Regions from separate parts of the Homo sapiens genome. Here region 2 is linked to region 1. Evidence: fine-mapped expression QTL. A gene starts in region 1. The other region holds a variant in brackets. All regions are shown on one strand. Distances are between the middles of the regions.

What was found.
Region 2: its variant is fine-mapped to the expression of MAT2A in neutrophils (BLUEPRINT, PIP 0.91).

What each region holds. Positions count from the first base shown.
Region 1 is chr2:85,533,826-85,543,512 of GRCh38, forward strand. MAT2A (methionine adenosyltransferase 2A) reads left to right here and starts at 5,343. Exons shown (of 9, transcript NM_005911.6): 1 at 5,343-5,553; 2 at 7,258-7,335; 3 at 7,430-7,552; 4 at 7,808-7,920; 5 at 8,004-8,147; 6 at 8,330-8,548; 7 at 8,740-8,922; 8 at 9,076-9,209. The coding sequence starts at 5,463. It overlaps PARTICL (promoter of MAT2A antisense radiation-induced circulating long non-coding RNA), which reads right to left and starts at 5,061. Exons shown (of 1, transcript NR_038942.1): 1 at 3,642-5,061. RefSeq lists enhancers at 4,261-4,350, 4,751-4,960, 5,031-5,120 and silencers at 5,151-5,420, 5,601-5,930.
Region 2 is chr2:85,491,166-85,500,852 of GRCh38, forward strand. It overlaps the pseudogene RPSAP22. Among named protein-coding and RNA genes, the nearest start is that of PARTICL, 43 kb to the right of the region's middle. The variant A/ATG (reference allele first, on the strand shown) is at 4,384.

The DNA of each region.
Region 1 (9,687 bases):
TACCACCTCCTCTTTAGGTCTGATTAATTTGCTAGAGTGTGCCGGGCACGGTGGCTCATACCTGTAATCCCAGCACTTTGGGAGGCGGAGGTGGGCAGATTACCTGAGGTCAGGAATTCAAGACCAGCCTGGCCAACATGGCAAAACCCGGTCTCTACTAAAAATACAAAAATTAGCAGGGCATGGTGGCAGGCGCCTATAATCCCAGCTACTCGTAGGCTGAGGCAGCAGAATCACTTGAACTCAGGGGTGGAGGCTGCAGTGAGCTGAGATCTCGCCACTTCACTCCAGCCTGGGTGGAAGAGCAAAACTCTGTCTCAAAAAAAAAAAATTTTTTTTTTCCGCTAGAGTGGCTCATAGAACTTAGGGAAGCACTTGCTCATTTTTACTGGTTATTTTAAAGGATACAAACAAACAGCCAGATGAAGAGATACATAGGGTGAGGTCTGGGAGGGTCCCAAGTGTAGGAGCTTCTGTTACCATGGAGTTGGGGTGTGCCACCCTCCTGGCACGTGGATGAGTTCTTATTCACTTTCCTGTCAGCCTCCACCTGTTCAGCTCTCCAGAAACTCTCTGAACCCAGTCCTCTCAGCATTCTTTGTCCCAGGGTATGGGGTAGGACCCTCTCTGGAATGAGGGTCTTATGACCCATGATCAGAAGGGCAGGGCAAGATTAGAGTCCTGCCTTGGGGCAGGTGAAAGAGAAGCAGGAAAAAGTCAGAGAGATTCTGTTTCCTGAGGCCTGCTCCTGAGTCCTAACACTCTCAACATTATAACGAAACACTGTATAACAAGGGCTATGGGAGTTATGAGCCAGGAACCATGGATAAAAACATATATAAATTCACACATATATTAACATCACATCTATCAACGAGGTTGAGCATTTTTTTCATATGTTTATTGCAATTTGCATTTTCTCCTTGGTGAGCTACCTATTTTATGTTGTATATATTTTCCCACAGTAAAAGAGAAGGAAATGATTTACAGCTCTACATAGTATCCTGGAGAGACAGTCATGAAAATTGTTAAGAAAAAAAAAATCCATGTTTCTCTGAATAGTAAGATGTGTGCGTGTGTGTGTTCACAGAAAAAGGAAAGGGAGGATATAAACCAAATTGTTAATATTAACGACCTCAGGGAGTATGCAGTATTTATTGTTTGGCTATAAGAAGGGGCATGAATTTAGAGGTCAGACCAGGCTCAAGGCCCTAGCTCCACTACTGATTTGATGTGTGACATGGACGAATAACATGCCAGTTTCTTCATCTGTAAAACAGGAAGAGAAATAGAGCTGTTGTGAGTAGTAGATATTACAACAGTGCCTGTCACAATAAAGTGTAGCTATTGTCATCATATTATTATCTCCTTCAGTGTCTTCTTCACTGTACCATATCTATTCTTCCATTCAGGACTTCTTTATTGGGACTGTAAAAAGATTTAAGTATCAAAAGAGAAAAACATAGAAATAAAAACAAAATACAAAAAGCCTAATAATGAGGGGGTTCACATAGTACTTGTTTCTGATCCCACTAGAACTAGCTTGCCTCTGAGGCCATCCGAGATATCTAAGCTTTGGCCCTAAAGAACTGCCACAAATTTGGAGACGTGGCCTACATTTCTTTCTTCTTGGTCTGTCTTCACATAGAAGGTGCTCTTAAGACACACAGCCTAGGAACCTCCTTCTCAACACCTCCACACCTTCACTTGCTCTTTGCTATCCCTACTGTCACCCTCCTCTTTTCTCCTGCCACATCAACAGCTTCTTGCACTGCAAATGTTTTCTGGAACTCTCCCCATGACTGACAGGCTAATAAGGAGTTATTTTATTTGCTGTTTGAGTCACAAATACCATTTTTATCCAATCCCAACTTTGCCTTTTTTGTAGGGTTACTGCTACATTAATGTTCTCTGGCTTGAGAAATCTGAAGCCTTTAGGCAGTGATTAGATTTTTCCTACGTGCTTTACAACACTTCACATTCAACAAATTCATTAACGATAAACAGGAAATAAACCAACAATTTCTCCTGGTTTAGTTCACCCTTAGGACACGCATCTATGAAATCAGAAATCTTATTCCTGTCAGAACAGGATGGCCATGTGCTTCCCTGTTAACAAAGAAGTCTTAATTTTATTAATTACAATGCTTACGACTAAAACAAAGCAGGACCTCTTTCCATTGATTTCACATGATCGCCAGAGTCTCTCATTTCTCTGCTTCCTTCTGCCATCTTTTTTTTTGAGACGGAGTCTTGCTCCGTCGCCCAGGCTGGAGTGCAGTAGTGCGGTCTCAGCTCACTGCAAGCTCCACCTCCCGGGTTCACATCATTCTCCTGCCTCAGCCTCCCAAGCAGCTGGGATTACAGGCGCCCGCCACCACGCCCAGCTAATTTTTTGTATTTTTAGTAGAGATGGGATTTCACCGTGTTAGCCAGGATGGTCTGGATCTCCTGACCTCGTGATCCACCCCGCCTCGGCCTCCCAAAGTGCTGGGATTACAGGCGTGAGCCACCGTGCCCCGCCCCCTTCTGCCATCTTTATATTCGTTCATTTTCCGTTTCCTTCCCTTCCTTTCTTGTCTCTCCCTCTTGAACATTTCTAAGCACCTTGTGTGTGCCAGGCATTCAGTAACAAAGCTTGAGCAAAACAGCCCACCTTCTCATTATCATGGAGCTTACAAGCCTAACTGGGAATTGGAGACATTCATCAAATAATCACCAAATCTATAATTTGAAACTGCACTTAGTGCCATGAAATAAAACACAGGCCCCTGTGACAAATCTGTGTAGATGAAGGCTTCATCCAGGAAGTGGTAGCTGAGCTGGAGTGAGAAGGATAAGGAGTTAGCCAGGCATCTCCCCACATTTAGAGCGCCGAGTGGGCAGAGACCAGGATTGTTATAGCATTTGCTCCTGGGTCTGACTCACAGATGTGCTCATAAATATTTGTGGAAGGGAGGAAGGGACAATACGAATAATATAAAATAAATGAAAATGTGTCCTCCTTTGTTTTGATACTATGAAATTAATAAAATTAACTGCTACTAACTAAAAAATCCAAGTAGAACACAGAAAGGAGAGTGTGGCACAAGGTAAGGTTGCAGAAGTAGCAGCCAAATCACACTGGGGCCTTGAGTATGTAGAGATTTTAGTCCGTATCCCGACAGCAATTGAAAGCCACTGAAAAGTAATTCACAGCAAATATAGTTAATTTTTTTACAGCTTACATTAAAACAAATTATGTACTAGATACTGTGCTAAAGACTCTACTTGCACTATTTGAATCCTTGAAACAATCCTATGATGTACTATTAATATTCCAATTTTACAGAACGAGGATACTGATGCATAGAGAGGTCGTGACTCCAAACCCCTACTCTTACTGTATTACACCTACACACTATTCACAAGTGAGAGAAGTAGGTAAGCAACTATGTACAGCTAAATCTCATCTCCTTGGCAGGCCTAGCCCCACTGTGGAGTTGGTAGCACAGGGGTATCAGGATTTAATGAGCCAATCATTGACTTTACGCTCCTTGTTCTGACTCCCTAATAAAATAACCTTCTAGTTATATTCTGGCTTCCCATATAGATTTTTCTGCTGGGAGATAATGCACTGACCAGCCTACACACGCATTTTGTTCCAGTTGACAATTTTATTACACATTGTAAGTTAATAAATTGGCATTCTCCTTTAAAAAATAACAAAAAAATTTAATAGTCTTATACAGTTACTTTCCCATGAAGGGTTAGCTTGAAAAGTAAAAAGCAACGAATAAAAATATCATCACCTATTGTCTCTTTTGTGGTCGAACCTTTTCTTGCTGCCTGCTTTGAGCGACCGTGGATGTGGTCACTGAGTCTGGGGAGGAGCCCTTTATCTTCTTTGTGGATGCCCCCAGCACAGCCCAAGTGCTTCCTTTGTTTCCCACTGAGCCTTTAGCAAATCCCACCTTTCCTCCTGCACCGACGGAGAGGATTGTTCTTGGGAATGCACCTTGTTCTACTGCCGCCAGCAGTAGGCAGCTGGAGACTGTTACTAGGGGTCTCCTTCACCTCCCCAGCGTAAAGTACATCCCATGCTAGGAGCAGGCCGTTCCCTGAGAACCTCATTAAACCCGGCGTTCTTGTCACGCGCTCCGCTCAGGGCCACCAGGCCACCAGCCCGACCAGACCTGCACCGAGGCCCAGCCCCAGAACAGGCTGCAGAGACCCCCGCCCCCAAGGCGGGCTCCCTCCAAACGGGACTCCATACTCCTTGCTGGCTCAAGTTTTGTTTCGCTCTTTTTCCCTGTAATTCCTTTATTGGGCAAAACTGGGACAAACGCAGGTGGACATTTTAAAGTGAAAGCTTCATGAAACAGCCCATTCCACGCCGTCAAGAGATCTGCTTAAGCACATTCAAGGGAACGAATAGCCCCCACCCACCAAAAAAGAAATGTTCGTTCCATATTCTCCTGAACAGAGGATTGAAACATCGATTCCCCCCCCCTTCAAAGGAACAGGAAGGCCACGGGGCAAGGACGGACTTGGGAGCGGCCTCCTTTCTCTCTGGAGGGAAAGGCTGGAGCGCTGCCTCCACTTTTAAGTCCACGAACCACGAAGGGTGAGGATCCCTCAGAAACTTTAGCGCAGGGGAGCGGGCAGGAGGGCGATTGTTTAAATCGATGGCAGCACCTTCATTAATCTGCTTTCCGGCCATCTTCAGCAGAGCCATTCACCAGGAAACGACTAGAAGGTGGGCCTGCGCCCCTCAGATATCCCGGGGCCGGCAACGAGCCGGGCAGGGACGCCGAAGGAAGGCCGTGAGGAGCCCTCGCTGGCCGGCCAAGATGGCCACCTTCACATGGCCGACCGCCACCGGCTCCCTGCCACCCGGCATCTAGAGGCGGGACGGCCAGAAAGACCCCAGCCGCAGCACAAAACCTCCGCGATTCCCGCCGCCTCCGCTGGGGGACGCGACCTCCGGGAAAGCTATCCCGGCCAACGGTCGGAAGGGAGGTGCCATGTCACCGCACAGGGGAGCGGGTCCAGCAAGCCCCAGTCGCTTTTTCTCCCACATCAAACAAGGAAGAGCAATCCCCCACGTCTCCTCGCGTCTGCATTTTTCTCCTAGCTCTAGCGGCTCAAGATAGCTGAACGGTCTCTGGAGGGCCGGATTGCCACGGCACCTCCCGCGGCCGCGCAGTGTGGTTCAGCCCGGACTCCGCGGGGCGAGCTGCCCTTCCTCCCCCGACCCCCGCGCAAGTGGTGCATTGGCGCGCGGCGCCGAGGGGCGGGGCCCGAGCCGGGCGCGCGCGGGCGCTGCTCTATAAATACCGGGCCGCACCGCCCGCTGCTTCGTTCGCTCCGCGCCGCCCGCCTGCTACGAGTAGAACGCTGTCCGCAGCTTGCGCATTTCGCAGCCGCTGCCGCCTCGCCGCTGCTCCTTCGTAAGGCCACTTCCGCACACCGACACCAACATGAACGGACAGCTCAACGGCTTCCACGAGGCGTTCATCGAGGAGGGCACATTCCTTTTCACCTCAGAGTCGGTCGGGGAAGGCCACCCAGGTGAGGGGACGGCCTGAAGCGAAGCGTGGGGCGGGGCAGAAGGCAGCGCCAAGGTCCGGCTGGCTGCGGCCGGCCGGTGGTGGGGCCCGCGCGGGTCGTCCTCGTCCGCCGGGTGATGGAAGAGCGGCGACCGCGCGCTTTCCTCGTGGCGCCGCCAGGGCCTGGCGCGTGGCCGCCGCTCCTCTTCCCCCTCCCCTCTCCACCCTTCCCTTCCCCCCTCCCTTTTCATTCGGTCGCGCGCCTAGGCATGCGGAAGGTTCCAGAAAACGTGAAGGGCGGGGGCTGTGGTCGCTAGTGAGTTCTGGCCGGGAAGGGAGGGCACTGTTAACCCCTCCCGGCCCTGCCGTCTGACAAACCTGGAGTGGGCGACCCGCCCCGCGTGCTCGCGTCCGGCCCTCGGGAGCGCGCGCCCCGCATTGCAGCGGCGACCACGTGTTTGCCGCATGTGGTATCTGGGCGAGGGGGAGCCGTGAGCCTCCCCGGCTGTCCTGGCCCTCAGTTTGAGGGGTGGGGGGCCTATGCCTTGGGACGTCGTCTGGCTCCACTGCCTCAGTGGTTAGGTCTTGACTACACACTGGAGAATACGCACATGCCCTTCGGCGGATATGGCCTTGCCTCCAAGGTGACGGCCTCTGACTAAATATAGCTCATGTCCAAGAAGGCAGTCCTTATTTGGACCCCTTGTGAAAAGGATGGGAAGCATGAATTAGGAGCTGCCATTGCTTTGGGTTCGCATTTAAAGTCTTCGGTGCAGGGTTTTACTTGAGGCTTTGTCCGCTCAACCGCCATTATGGGGATCAATTGGCACGTGAAGGAGGAGTAAAGCTATATTTCCAGGAACTGAAAATCTCAGCCTGAGCATATCGGCTAGTAAAGATGATTATTTGGCTCTTTTGGCTGTTTCTGCCCTTAGGATGACCGCAGTAGTTATCTATCTGGTGGCTTTAGGGTCTGGTCAGTTTACTGTGCCCATGATGAAATCCCACAAGTAACTTAGTGGTATGAGAGGACAAACCCAGGATCTTGATGAGTGCTGAAGGTTAGCTGTTACACCAGTTAGTAGTAGACCGAAGTTCAGAGCCTGCAGTCTGGCTTCCACATTATGTTTGGATTCTGTTTTAGGCGGTTATAGAAAATTCAGAAAAACGAACTTGAATTAGGGAGATATTTGTTCTCCCTCCTAACAATAGATGACAAAGCAGGGAGACATGGATTCGGAATACGTTTGAGCATCTTCTACACTGTTGAGCTTTTGTTTCCTGCGCAACTCCTAACAGCAAAATCAGATAATTGCCATTTTAGTCAGAAAATGCTTTTCATTTAATTGTTTAATCGAATTATCTTGTTGCTCATTATAATTGGTGTTCCTTAAGATTAGGGAAACTGGCCTACCTGTGGCCTCAGTTCTACCAGACTCCCAGGTGCAGAGGGGTTTGGTACAGTTGTGGAAGTGAATATGATATAGGGCAAATTCTGTTCTTTAAAGGATATAGGACTAACAGTTCACCTTTCTGGTGATTAGATTTATAATGCAAACTTTGAATTTTAGGAGGAAAGTGCAAACACAATGAATTAAGATGTATTAAGCATGTTTTTTAAAATCTCCAAAGATTTTACAGATAGTAACAGGGAGGGAGCTTGCATACATACATACATACTTTGTTTAAAGTTAAAGAAACTGAGCCAGGAATTTCTCTTTTCCAGATAAGATTTGTGACCAAATCAGTGATGCTGTCCTTGATGCCCACCTTCAGCAGGATCCTGATGCCAAAGTAGCTTGTGGTAGGTTCAGAATGTGCTTATCAACTGGTGGAAAGATAGCATAAAAATTATTTTTATAGAAGTGATGTTTGAGTTGAATGTCTCTTTTTATTAGAAACTGTTGCTAAAACTGGAATGATCCTTCTTGCTGGGGAAATTACATCCAGAGCTGCTGTTGACTACCAGAAAGTGGTTCGTGAAGCTGTTAAACACATTGGATATGATGATTCTTCCAAAGGTGTGTTTTAATGATTTTGCTCATTTTTTTCTAGGTAACAGCTGTGAGGTTTGAAGAAACTCCTAGAATGTTCCTGCTAATCCTAAACTCCAGTTGTATCTTACTATACACTAAGCCCTATTCTGTTCATTCTCTAAAAGGTCCGATGGTTTAGGTATATTTGATTTCTTCAGCAGTGTTTAGAATTCCAGATAATTGCTGTAAACAGCAGGTATTTCTAGGACGTAAACAAGATGTTGTGTTTTTTGCTTATAGGTTTTGACTACAAGACTTGTAACGTGCTGGTAGCCTTGGAGCAACAGTCACCAGATATTGCTCAAGGTGTTCATCTTGACAGAAATGAAGAAGACATTGGTGCTGGAGACCAGGTATCTTGGTGTAGAGGCTGTTTTAATCTCTTCTAACATTAAATTCTGGAGCTTGATCACATTGGTGACTTTTCTTTCTTTAGGGCTTAATGTTTGGCTATGCCACTGATGAAACTGAGGAGTGTATGCCTTTAACCATTGTCTTGGCACACAAGCTAAATGCCAAACTGGCAGAACTACGCCGTAATGGCACTTTGCCTTGGTTACGCCCTGATTCTAAAACTCAAGTAAGTGATGATCATAAAGCTTGGTTGTCTCATTTATTACATCAGCACAGAAGATCCATAATTTTGATAATAGCTAACTGGAAAAAATAGCATTTGTTTTCCTATATTGTAACTTCAGGTAGAGAAACAAATACAAAGTTATTGTTTGGTGTGATGTTCTGATGACCTGTGTTGCCTTCAAGGTTACTGTGCAGTATATGCAGGATCGAGGTGCTGTGCTTCCCATCAGAGTCCACACAATTGTTATATCTGTTCAGCATGATGAAGAGGTTTGTCTTGATGAAATGAGGGATGCCCTAAAGGAGAAAGTCATCAAAGCAGTTGTGCCTGCGAAATACCTTGATGAGGATACAATCTACCACCTACAGCCAAGTGGCAGATTTGTTATTGGTGGGCCTCAGGTAATGTCATTTTGTTGCATTTTTCTGGATTTTTGATGGTTACTTAAAATTTTGGCTACTACATTTTTTTCAGGCTTTCTGAAACCTACATGTGAATCATCGGAGGATATTTGCTGAATGAATTCAGAATAGGCAACCTAATCCACTTGGAAAGCACTAGGCGTAAAGTAACTTAAATCCTGTAATTTCAGGGTGATGCTGGTTTGACTGGACGCAAAATCATTGTGGACACTTATGGCGGTTGGGGTGCTCATGGAGGAGGTGCCTTTTCAGGAAAGGATTATACCAAGGTCGACCGTTCAGCTGCTTATGCTGCTCGTTGGGTGGCAAAATCCCTTGTTAAAGGAGGTCTGTGCCGGAGGGTTCTTGTTCAGGTATACACTCTTTATATAACGAACGATTAAAAGTCATGTAAGTGGGAGGGTATTTAGTAGTAATCTACTTAACTACTTGTTTTATACCAACGTATTATACAAGTATATGGGTCTTTGCAATCACTGATTCTTACGACATTTGAATCCTTTTAGGTCTCTTATGCTATTGGAGTTTCTCATCCATTATCTATCTCCATTTTCCATTATGGTACCTCTCAGAAGAGTGAGAGAGAGCTATTAGAGATTGTGAAGAAGAATTTCGATCTCCGCCCTGGGGTCATTGTCAGGTAAAGATGGTAAAGCCTGTTGCTAGTCAAGTATTGAGGGTGTTGGGTGTGTGTGTATATACTTAAGGCTGAGGAGGTGAAGGTGTGAAGGAAGACTCCTCAAATGGGAATATATTTTAATTCCTGGAACAGTTTTGAACTGCTGCCTTAGTGAAGACTTAGTTATTTGAGAAATTTAAAATTACGGTGCTCCATGGCTTAGGCTAACCACTCTAGAGAATGTTCCAGATTTGATATTTGAGCTTTGTGCTCTTCTACTTAAGGGTGTTAAGAAAATAGAGATAAAGTGGGTTGCTCAAGGTTTGTTGCAATGTAAAAACCATGGTAGGGTGTGGGCGGCGGGACCTTGGTAAGTATTGTGTGATCTCAGGTGAGCTTTTTGACAATTGAAATTTCTCAGAATAATGACAAGTTTTCGTATTTGTTGAGCCAGGGACGGAAAAACAACTATAGTTACTAATAAGGACTGTGCAAGGAG
Region 2 (9,687 bases), 43 kb before region 1:
CTTCCTTCTCAATCTTCCTTCTCAATCTCTTCAGGATCTCTATAGAATTAGAGATCAGGTATAACCTCCCTTGGGTGTCCAATGGAGATGGTGCCACGCATGCTCAGAACTTCCCAGGCCAGCCTCCACCACATCAGACCCACTGAATGAGCTCTCTTCTTGTTGCATGTAATGGCAATGTCCATACAGTGCAGAGGAGAATCTGTGTTACACAGAGCTATGGTAGGCAGGTTAACATAAAAGGCCTATGTAGGAGGCCAGTGGTCAGCCCTGGGACCAGTAACCACCAGAAGACATGGCCCCCAGGAGGCTGTCTGGATCTGGTTAGTGTAAGTTCCAGGAATGAAACAGCCAGCAATAGGAGTGGCTCCAATGGCAGCAGCAAACTTCAGCACAGCCAACCAGCTAGTATTCCTGGAGGATGATGCTGACATCAGCAGGGTTTTCAATAGCACAAGCTGCCAATAGAAGCTTCTCCAGATTTATGATGTCGATGCCATTACTTTTCCTTTTATAGATGTGCTGTTCCATTTGGAAGTCAAGGTTGGTGCTACCTAAGTGGCTTCCTGCTGCAAGGAACTTGAGGACACCCTCCTCCTTAATTTCCAGAACATCAGTGCTCCAAATATCGTAAAAGTTTCCCTTTAAGTTATGACAGGGCTGGACACAGTGTTTCATGCCTGTGATCCCGGCACTTTGAGAGGCTGAGGTGTGAGGATTGCTCAAACCCAGGAGTTTGAGACCAGCCCTGGCAACACAGTGAGACCCTATCTCTATTTTAAATAAATAAATAAAAAGTTGGCCAGGCGCGGTGGCTCACGCCTATAATCTCAGCACTTTGGGAGGCCAAGGCGGGCAGATCACCTGAGGTTGGGAGTTCAAGACCAGCTTGACCAACATGGAGAAACCCCATCTCTACTAAAAATACAAAAATTAGCCAGGTGTGGTGGCGCATTCCTGTAATCCCAGCTACTCAGGAGGCTGAGGCAGGAGAATCGCTTGAACCCGAGAGGCGGAGGTTGCGGTGAGCCGAGATCGTGCCATTGCACTCCAGCTTGGGCAACAAGAGTGAAACTCGGTCTCAAAAAAAAAAAAGTTATGATGGGAATCCAGAACAATGGATCTATGGACCCTTCTCTAAGAAGTGAGGAAAGGTAAGGTTTCATTAAAGTTAGCTTTAGTATTGATAATACACTATATGGAACTAAAATTTGATTTTCTCTTTTGAGTAAGAATTTTGTATAGTTTGTTTTTTTTTTTTTTACAGAGTCTTGCTCTGTTGCCAAGGCTGGAGTGCCATGGCATGATCTCAGCTCACTGCAACCTGCACCCCCTGGGTTCAAGCGATTCTCCTGCCTCAGTCTCCCAAGTAGCTGGGATTACAGGCATGCACCACCATGCTCAGCTAATTTTTGGTAGAGATGGGGTTTCACCACATTGGCCAGGCTGGTCTTGAACTCCTGACCTCAAGTGATCTGCCTGCCTCGGCCTCCCAAAGTGCTGGGATTACAGGTGTGAGCCACCAAACCCAGCCTGTGTAGGATTAATAAGAGATAGTAAAATATTTTTGTTTATCTTTGAGTAAACTGCAAAAAAAAAAAAAAAAAAAGGAAGAGAAGAGACAGATTCTATCTCAGGCTGTCTTTATTAGGTCTTTTGATTGTTAGAAAAACAGACTTTTCTATCAAAGAATAAAGGTTTTTGCTTTTTAAAACCTTTTAATTATCACTTTGGCTAAATAAATATTATTTTACAGTGATCTGTGATCCTATTTTTGTTGCTTGTTTGTTTGTTTTTGAGATGGAGTCTCACTCTGTCGCCCAGACTGGAGTGCAGTGGCAAGAACTCAGCTTACTGCAAACTGCCTCCCAGGCTCAGCTATTCTCCCACCTCAGCCTCCCAAGTATCTGGGATTACAGGCACTCACCACCACACCTAGCTAATTTTTGTATTTTTAGTAGAGATGAGTTTTCACCATGTTGGCCAGGCTGGTCTCGAACTCCCCCTCAGCCTCCCAAAGTGCTTGGATTACAGGCGTAATCCACCATGCCCAGCCTCCTATTTTGGTTGTTTTAAATTTTTGACAGGCTTCTCAAAATCAAATTTTAAATTCAAAATTAAGTCTTTTAGGCCACAAACTAACTTTGCAATGCTACAGGAGGCCCCTGCAGCATCCAAAAGAGAGACAATAAGCAGGCTTATTTAATATTTTAAGTGACATGGGAAGCATTGTCAAATAAGAAATGATGTTTAACTTTCTTTTTTTGTTGTTTTGCTTTTCTGCTTTTTTGAGATTGAGTTTTGCTCTTGTTGCCCAGGCTGGAGTGCAATGACACAATCTCGGCTCCCTGCAACCTCCACCTCCCAAGTTCAAGCAATTCTCCTGCCTCAGCCTCCTGAGTGGCTGGGATTACAGGCATGCACCACCACACCTGGCTAATTTTGTATTTTTAGTAGAGATGGGGTTTCTCCATGTTGGTCAGGCTGGTCTCGAACTCCCGACCTCAGGTGATCCGCCTTCCTCAGCCTCCCAAAGTGCTGGGATTACAGGTGTGAGCCACCGTGCCTGGCCTGATGTTTAACTTTCAAATTACATTTTGGATATGTTATTAATGTATGTTCCAAAATTGGCTGGGCACAGTGGCTCATGCCTGTAATCCCAGCACTTTGGGAGGCGAAGGCAAGAGGATCCTTGAGCCCAGGAGATTGAAATCAGACTGGGCAACATAGGAATCTCTTCTCTACAAAAATAAAAAATTTAGCCAAGTATGTTGGCATGCCCTGTGGTCCCAGCTACTCTGAAGGCTAAGGCAGGGGGATTGCCTGAGCCCAGGAGGTCAAGGCTGAGCCATGATCATGCCACTGCACTCCAGTGTGGGCGACAGAGCAAGATCCTGTCTCAAACAAACAAAAAAAAAACAAAAAAAACAAGGCATGGTGTGGTGGCTCATGCCTGTAATCCCAGCACTTTGGGAGGCTGAGGTGGGTGGATTGCCAGAGGTCAGGAGTTTGAGACCAGACTTGCCAACATGGTGAAAACCCATCTCTACTAAAAATACAAAAAAAAGTAGCTGAGCATGGTGGCGGGCACCTGTAATCCCAGCTACTAGGGAGGCTGAGGCAGGAGAATAGCTTGAACCTGGGAGATGGAGGTTTCAGTGAGCCAAGATCGCACCATTGCACTCCAGCCTGGGCAACAAGAGCAAAACTTAGTCTCAAAAACAAACAAACAAACAAACAAAAACAAAATAAGACTGTATGAGATTCCTAAAATTCTGATATGTCTTGGTATAAGTCACAGTTATGGCTATTATGTTAAATTATTACAGTCCACAGAAATAACCAAATTTCCTTGTCAATTGGGTCTTTAACTATGACGATTTTAAATTGTTTCCACAGTTAATTACTTAATTCTGATGCATTTTCTGAAAGCTCTTTACGAGCAAGTAAAATCATAGAGTGTTGTGTCTTCAAGGAGGTTCATGGAAAGAATATAAAGGACCCTGACAAGCACATCTTTTTTTTTTTAAAGACAGAGTCTCATTCTGTCACCCAGGCTGGAGTGCAATAGCATGATCTCGGCTCATTGAAACCTCTGCTTCCTAAGTAGCTGGGACGACAGGCATGTGCCACCATGCCCAGCTAATTTTTGTATTTTTTTGTAGAGACAGGATTTTACCATGTTGCCCATGCTGGTCTTGAACTCCTGGACTCAAGTGATCTGCCCGCCTCAGATTCCCAAAGTGATGGGATTACAGGTGTGAGCCACCATGACCGGCCATTGCCAGATTTTCATGCTAAATCAGCCAGTACTGAAATTGTTAGGATATGCAGTTTGAATGAACTCCATGGTCCAAGTCAGATTACCTGTGATAACCCAGTTTTTACCTATTTATTTATTTTGAGACAAGGTCTGGCTCTATCACCCAGGCTGGAGTGCAGTGGTGCAATCTCGTTTCACTGTAACCTCCTTCGCCACCCCTTCCCCATCCCCCACCTAAGCCCCGCAAGTAGCTGAGACTACAGACATGCACCACCACACCTGGCTGGTTTTTGTATTTTTTGTAGAGATGGGGTTTCACCATGTTGCCCAGGCTGGTCTTGATCTGTGAACTCAAAGATCCATCTGTCTTGGCCTCCCAAAGTGCTGGGATTACAGGTGTGAGCCACTGCACCAGGCCAACCCAGTTATTAAACAGTACTATTCACCTGAATTGGAAAAACAAAATTGGTATTGAAGAAGATATACATCCAATGTTAAGCATAAACTCATGGAGAGCCTGGACAGCTGCCTCATCCTTCCTGAATCCTTAAAGCTTCCACTCTTAGAAGCTCTGTACTCCATGACACATTATGGTAGAGATTAAATGATCCAAATAGAAA[A/ATG]TGTGTGTGTGTGTGTGTGTGTGTGTGTGGTGTGACCGTTTTAAATTGCTAAAATGGTTTTTGACCAATGCTTAGTTTGTCAAATCCATAATCCTGGGGAAACAATAAAAACTTCAGGTACACTTCTGCTACCTGATTGGCCATTTGAACATTTATAGAGGGAGTTCATTCAATTGTCATTCGGAATGCATATTTTCTGGTTGTATAGAAGCTTTCCCACGAAAGAAGTCTGATGATATAACAGTAGCTAAAAGTTTATTAGGAAGTGTGTTTTTTTCAGGGGGCATTCCTGGAGAAATCTCCAGTGATAAATGTATTTGTTTCATTGAACAAATTGTAAAACAGTTAAATAAGAAACTACAGACAAAATAGTACTAGGCAAAGCTAAGTAAATCAACTGGATTGTCTTGGTCAAAGGTATTGCAGATTGATGACAATTAGATCCACTTTCAGCAGAAAACATCAGTTGACCCTTTATAAAACAGTCACTGGAAGGCCTATGCCCCTAATAATAGAAACTCATGACTAGGCGCTGTGGCTCACGCCTGTAACCCCAGCACTTTGGGAGGCCGAGGCGGGTGGATCACCTGAGGTCAGGAGTTCCAAGCCAGTCTGGCTAACATGGTGAAACCCCGTCTCTACAAAAATACAAAAATTAGCCAGGCATGGTGGTGCATGTCTGTAATCCCAGCTGCTCGAGAGGCTGAGGCAGGAGAATCCCGTGAACCCGGGATGTGGAGGTTGCAGTGAGCTAAGACTGAGCCACTGCACTCCAGCCTGGGTGACAGAGCGAGACTCTGTCACACACACAATAAAACCACACACACACACAAACAAAACAAAACAAAACAAAAACTCATGTATCTTCTGCTCCTAAACTTTGATATGGCTAACTGTGGCTTTAATGCATTATGCCAAAGTGCATTTTCACCAGGTAAGGAAGGTTTTCATGATCCACTGACTGAGGACAATTAAATCCTTCATGATCAAGAACATAGAGATTGGGTCTTCTAGAAACAACACACCTTGCCACCCACACTGCAGCAAAACTTTAGGACTTTGAACCTTGGGTCTGTAATCTCACAACTCAGAAGGGCCCCTCCAGACTCTTAGAACTGTATATCTGTTGGAGACCTCAAGATAAAGCTAACCAGGGAAGTTTCTCACCAGAAGCAGATGGAATCCTAGATGTGGAAAGCTTTCTCAAGATGACAGATCAAGACTTCTTTGCCATCATGAGACTCTTACCTCTCTTAATTTTTTCCTCGCTTATGCCTTTATGAAGACTAGAACTAGAAAAAGTCTTGTGTGGACCCATGGGGTATACTTTTATTTGTGGAGGATTTCACCGCTAACCTTATGCATGAGCAACCTTATGCCTTGATGGATAGAAGATGAAGGGCCAAAGTGGGTGAGGAATTTTCACGGTACCTTTGTAGCTCCATAATCAGTCAGAAACAGAACATTGGTCTATTTCTTTTAACCTACATTATAGGTTGAAGCAAACGTTGCCAGGAGGCCTTCACCCTTCTGAATGGGCATAATTCGTTAGGTTGCTTTTTCCATGATTTGGGGTAAATGAGGCAATGATTAGAAATTTGTCCCTCATAGTAGACTCTATAGCAGATTCAACTATAAACACTATGCTAAAGACTTCTTTAAACTTTTTGCTAAAGTTGTGCTACATAATAGAACTGCTCTAGGCTACTTACTGGCTGAACAGAGAAGAATCTGTGCAGTTGCTGACTACATATATATATATATATATACATACACACACACACACACACACACAGAGAGAGAGAGAGAGAGAGAGAGAGAGAGAGAGAGAGAGAGAGAGAGGAGAGAGAGAGAGACAGGATCTCACTACGTTGCCCGAGCTGGTTTCGAACTCCTGGGCTCAAACAATCCTCTTGCCTGGGCCTCCCAAAGTGCTGGGTTATAGGTGTAAGCCACCATGCCCAGCCAATTGCTGACACTTCTTGTTGCACATGGATGAATATGTCAGGTACTATAGAGATTCATTTGCAGGGGATTAAAAAACTGGCTGCTTGGTCGAAACTCGTAGACCATTTATCAAGCTTATTCTTTAATCTATTTAATTTTAGTTGGTTCAGTTCATGGGGACCCTGGCTAAGCAGCATACTCCAAACTCTTGGTATTGTCCTTCTGGTAGTCATAATAGTCATCTCCCTGGTGAAATATATCCTCTCAAAAATTGTAAATGTTTAATGCAGCCATGCATAGAATGTCAAATGGTCTCTCTTCAACTGGGATGACAAAATCTCAAAGAAATACATAATCATGAGGACACTATAACCTATGAAAGACATGTTGAGACCAGAAACCCAAAATGATCATAACTGAGAGTAGCAATTAGCGATGTTTTGGTCACACTCTCACTTAAGTGACAACATGATCAAAAGGGGAGAATTGTTCAACAAAATTATGGGAGGCCATTGTTTTGGACTGAACTCATGCACTAGGCCCCAACAGACTAGATTGGATCTAACCAAATGGAGTCAACTCATGCTAAATGCAGCACAATCAAACTAAAACTTTAAGGAAGCATATGGATCCCCAAAGAGACCAGATTTTTTTTCTCCAGAAAAGAGGGGATTATAGTATAATAAGGAAGTCGTCTCTGCTCTACCCTTTACAAAAAGGGAATCTAAATTCCTCGTTTCCACCTTATAAAACACAGTGTTCCACTATTTCTCAGTGGGATTTGAAACCAAGTAAGTCTATTTGCTATGGTGACAAAGTGACAGCAATACATAAAGTTTGGTCAACCTCTTCATTTTAAGAGGTTGACTAAAAGGAAGAAATTGTTCAATTAAGTTTAGCCTAAAGCTGCCTGCTTACATATTTTAAGTTTAGTCTGTAAACATATTAAACTGTAACCTAACTGGATGTGTAAACAGACAGTACCAATCACTGAGTTTTAGCAAATCACAGGTGGTCAACTGTTCAAACTATGTTCAAATAAAATAAACACCGATCTGTAACCAATATGGCTATTTCTATACATCACTTCCATTTTCTTTTTTAATTTTATTTATTTACTTATTTATCTATTTCGAGACGAAATCTTACTCTGTTGTCCAGGCTGGAGAGCAGTGGTGCAATCTTGGCTCACTGCAACCTCCACCTCCCAGGTTCAAGAGATTCTCTTGCCTTGGCCTCCTGAGTAGCTGGGATTACAGATGTGCGCCACCACACCCGGCTAATTTTTGTATTTTTAGTAGAGAAGGGGTTTCACCATCTGGCCAGCCTGGTCTCAAACTCCCGACCTCAAGTGATCCACCCACCTTGGCCTCCCAAACTGCTGGGATTACAGGCATAAGCCACCACGCCCAGCCTGACTTCCATTTTCTGTATGTCATTTTCCTTTTTTTGTTTTTGTTTTGTTTTGTTTTGTTTGAGACCAAGTCCTGCTCTATCATCCCCCAGACTGGAGTGCAGTGGGATGATCGTGGCTCACTGCAACCACCACCTCCTGGCCTCGAGTCATCCTCCCACCTCACCCTCCTGATTAGCCAGAACTATAGGTGCACACCACCACGCCTGGCTAATTTTTGTATTTTTTTGTAGAGACAGGGTTTCAACATACTGCCCAAGCTGGTCTTGAACTCCTGGGCTCAAATGATCCGCTCTCCTTGGCCTGCCAAAGTGCAGGGATTAGAGGCGTGAGTCACCACGCCCAGCCCATTTTCCTTTTCCTGTCCATAAATTCCTCTCTGACCACATGGCAGCATCAGAGTCCCTCTGGTTCAGGGAGTTACCGGATTCATGAATCATTCTTTGCTCAATTAAACTCTGTTAACTTTAATATGTCTAAAATTTTTCTGGCTGGGCATGGTGGCTCATGCCTGTAATCCCAGGCGGGTGGATCACCTGAGGTCAGAAGTTCAAGACCAGCCTGGCCAACATGGTGAAACCCTGTCTCTACTAAAAATACAAAAATCAGCTGGATATGGTGGTGGTGCCTGTAATTCCAGCTACTTAGGAGGCTGAGGCAAGAGAAACACTTGAACCCGGGAGGCGGGGGTTGCAGTGAGCCGAGATCGCGCCACTCCACTCCAGCCTGGGCGACAGAGGGAGACTCTGTCTCAAAAAAATAAATAAAATTTTCTTTTAACATGTGTAAGAGGCTGGGCGCCGTGGCTCATGCCTATAATCCCAGCACTTTGGGAGGCCAAGGCGAGTGGATCACCTGAGGTCAGGAGTTTGAGACCAGCCTGACCAGCATGGAGAAACCCCATCTCTATTAAAAATACAAAAATTAGCCAGGCGTGGTGGCAGGCGCCTGTAATCCCAGCTACTTGGGAGGCTGAGGCAGGAGAATCACTTGAACCCAAGAGGAGGAGGTTGCAGTGAGCCGAGATCGTGCCATTGCACTCCAGCCTGGGCAACAAAGCAAGACTCTATCTGAAAAAATAAAACAAAAACAAAACGTGTAAGAGGAAAGGTCTCATACTTACTAATATAAACGAATTGAGAACCAAATGCTCCATTCGCCTGTCCTGCTGCTCTGGAGATATCACCTCTCCCCTACTGCTTTTGAGGCCCAGGTTTTCAGTTATTCCCAGTCTTCTTTGTCCTGTCGTCCTTGCCTTCCCTCAAGCACTCATGACCAAAGAATAAGTAGGCCAAATAGATAACGTTCTTTAAAAAGAGTACAGAGTTCCTGACCTATTCATCTCCACTTTCCAAATACCTTTTGGCTTCAGCTTATCTCATTTTTGCAGCTTTAGCACCGAATGAAAACTGTGCATGAAGGAGCAGGCAGGTTCTCGCTTTGTGAAGCGTCTCCTTGTGCCTCGAGCTGGGGGAAGGGCTAGAATTGCAGTAACAGCAAGAGCACCCAAGAAATCGGTCTCAGTTTCCTTCCCCATTTTCAGAGGACAGTGGAGATCTCAAACAAAGCCAGCTAGGCACAGATTTCTTTAGAGCTTTGGGTTCTTTCCTCTACCAAACATTTTAAATTGTCATGTAAATTATACATTTGTCAGCTTTATCCTTTATGGCTTTTGGTTTTTCAGTCTTGCTTGGAAAGAAGTTTCCTAATCCCAAGACTTAGTTCTTCTTTATTTATTTCTGGTACTTTCATGTTGCTTAACTCTTCAATCCATTTGAAATTTATTCTGGGACTCTCCCCCAAATTAATGGCTTAATCCCTCTAATAGCATTTCTCCACTTCTTTGAAATGCCCCCTTTAAGAAGAAAATATTCTTCTATTCCCATAGTTGTTTCTGAATTGGATTCTGTTCCATTGATTTATTCCACTGATTCAGGGTCAGC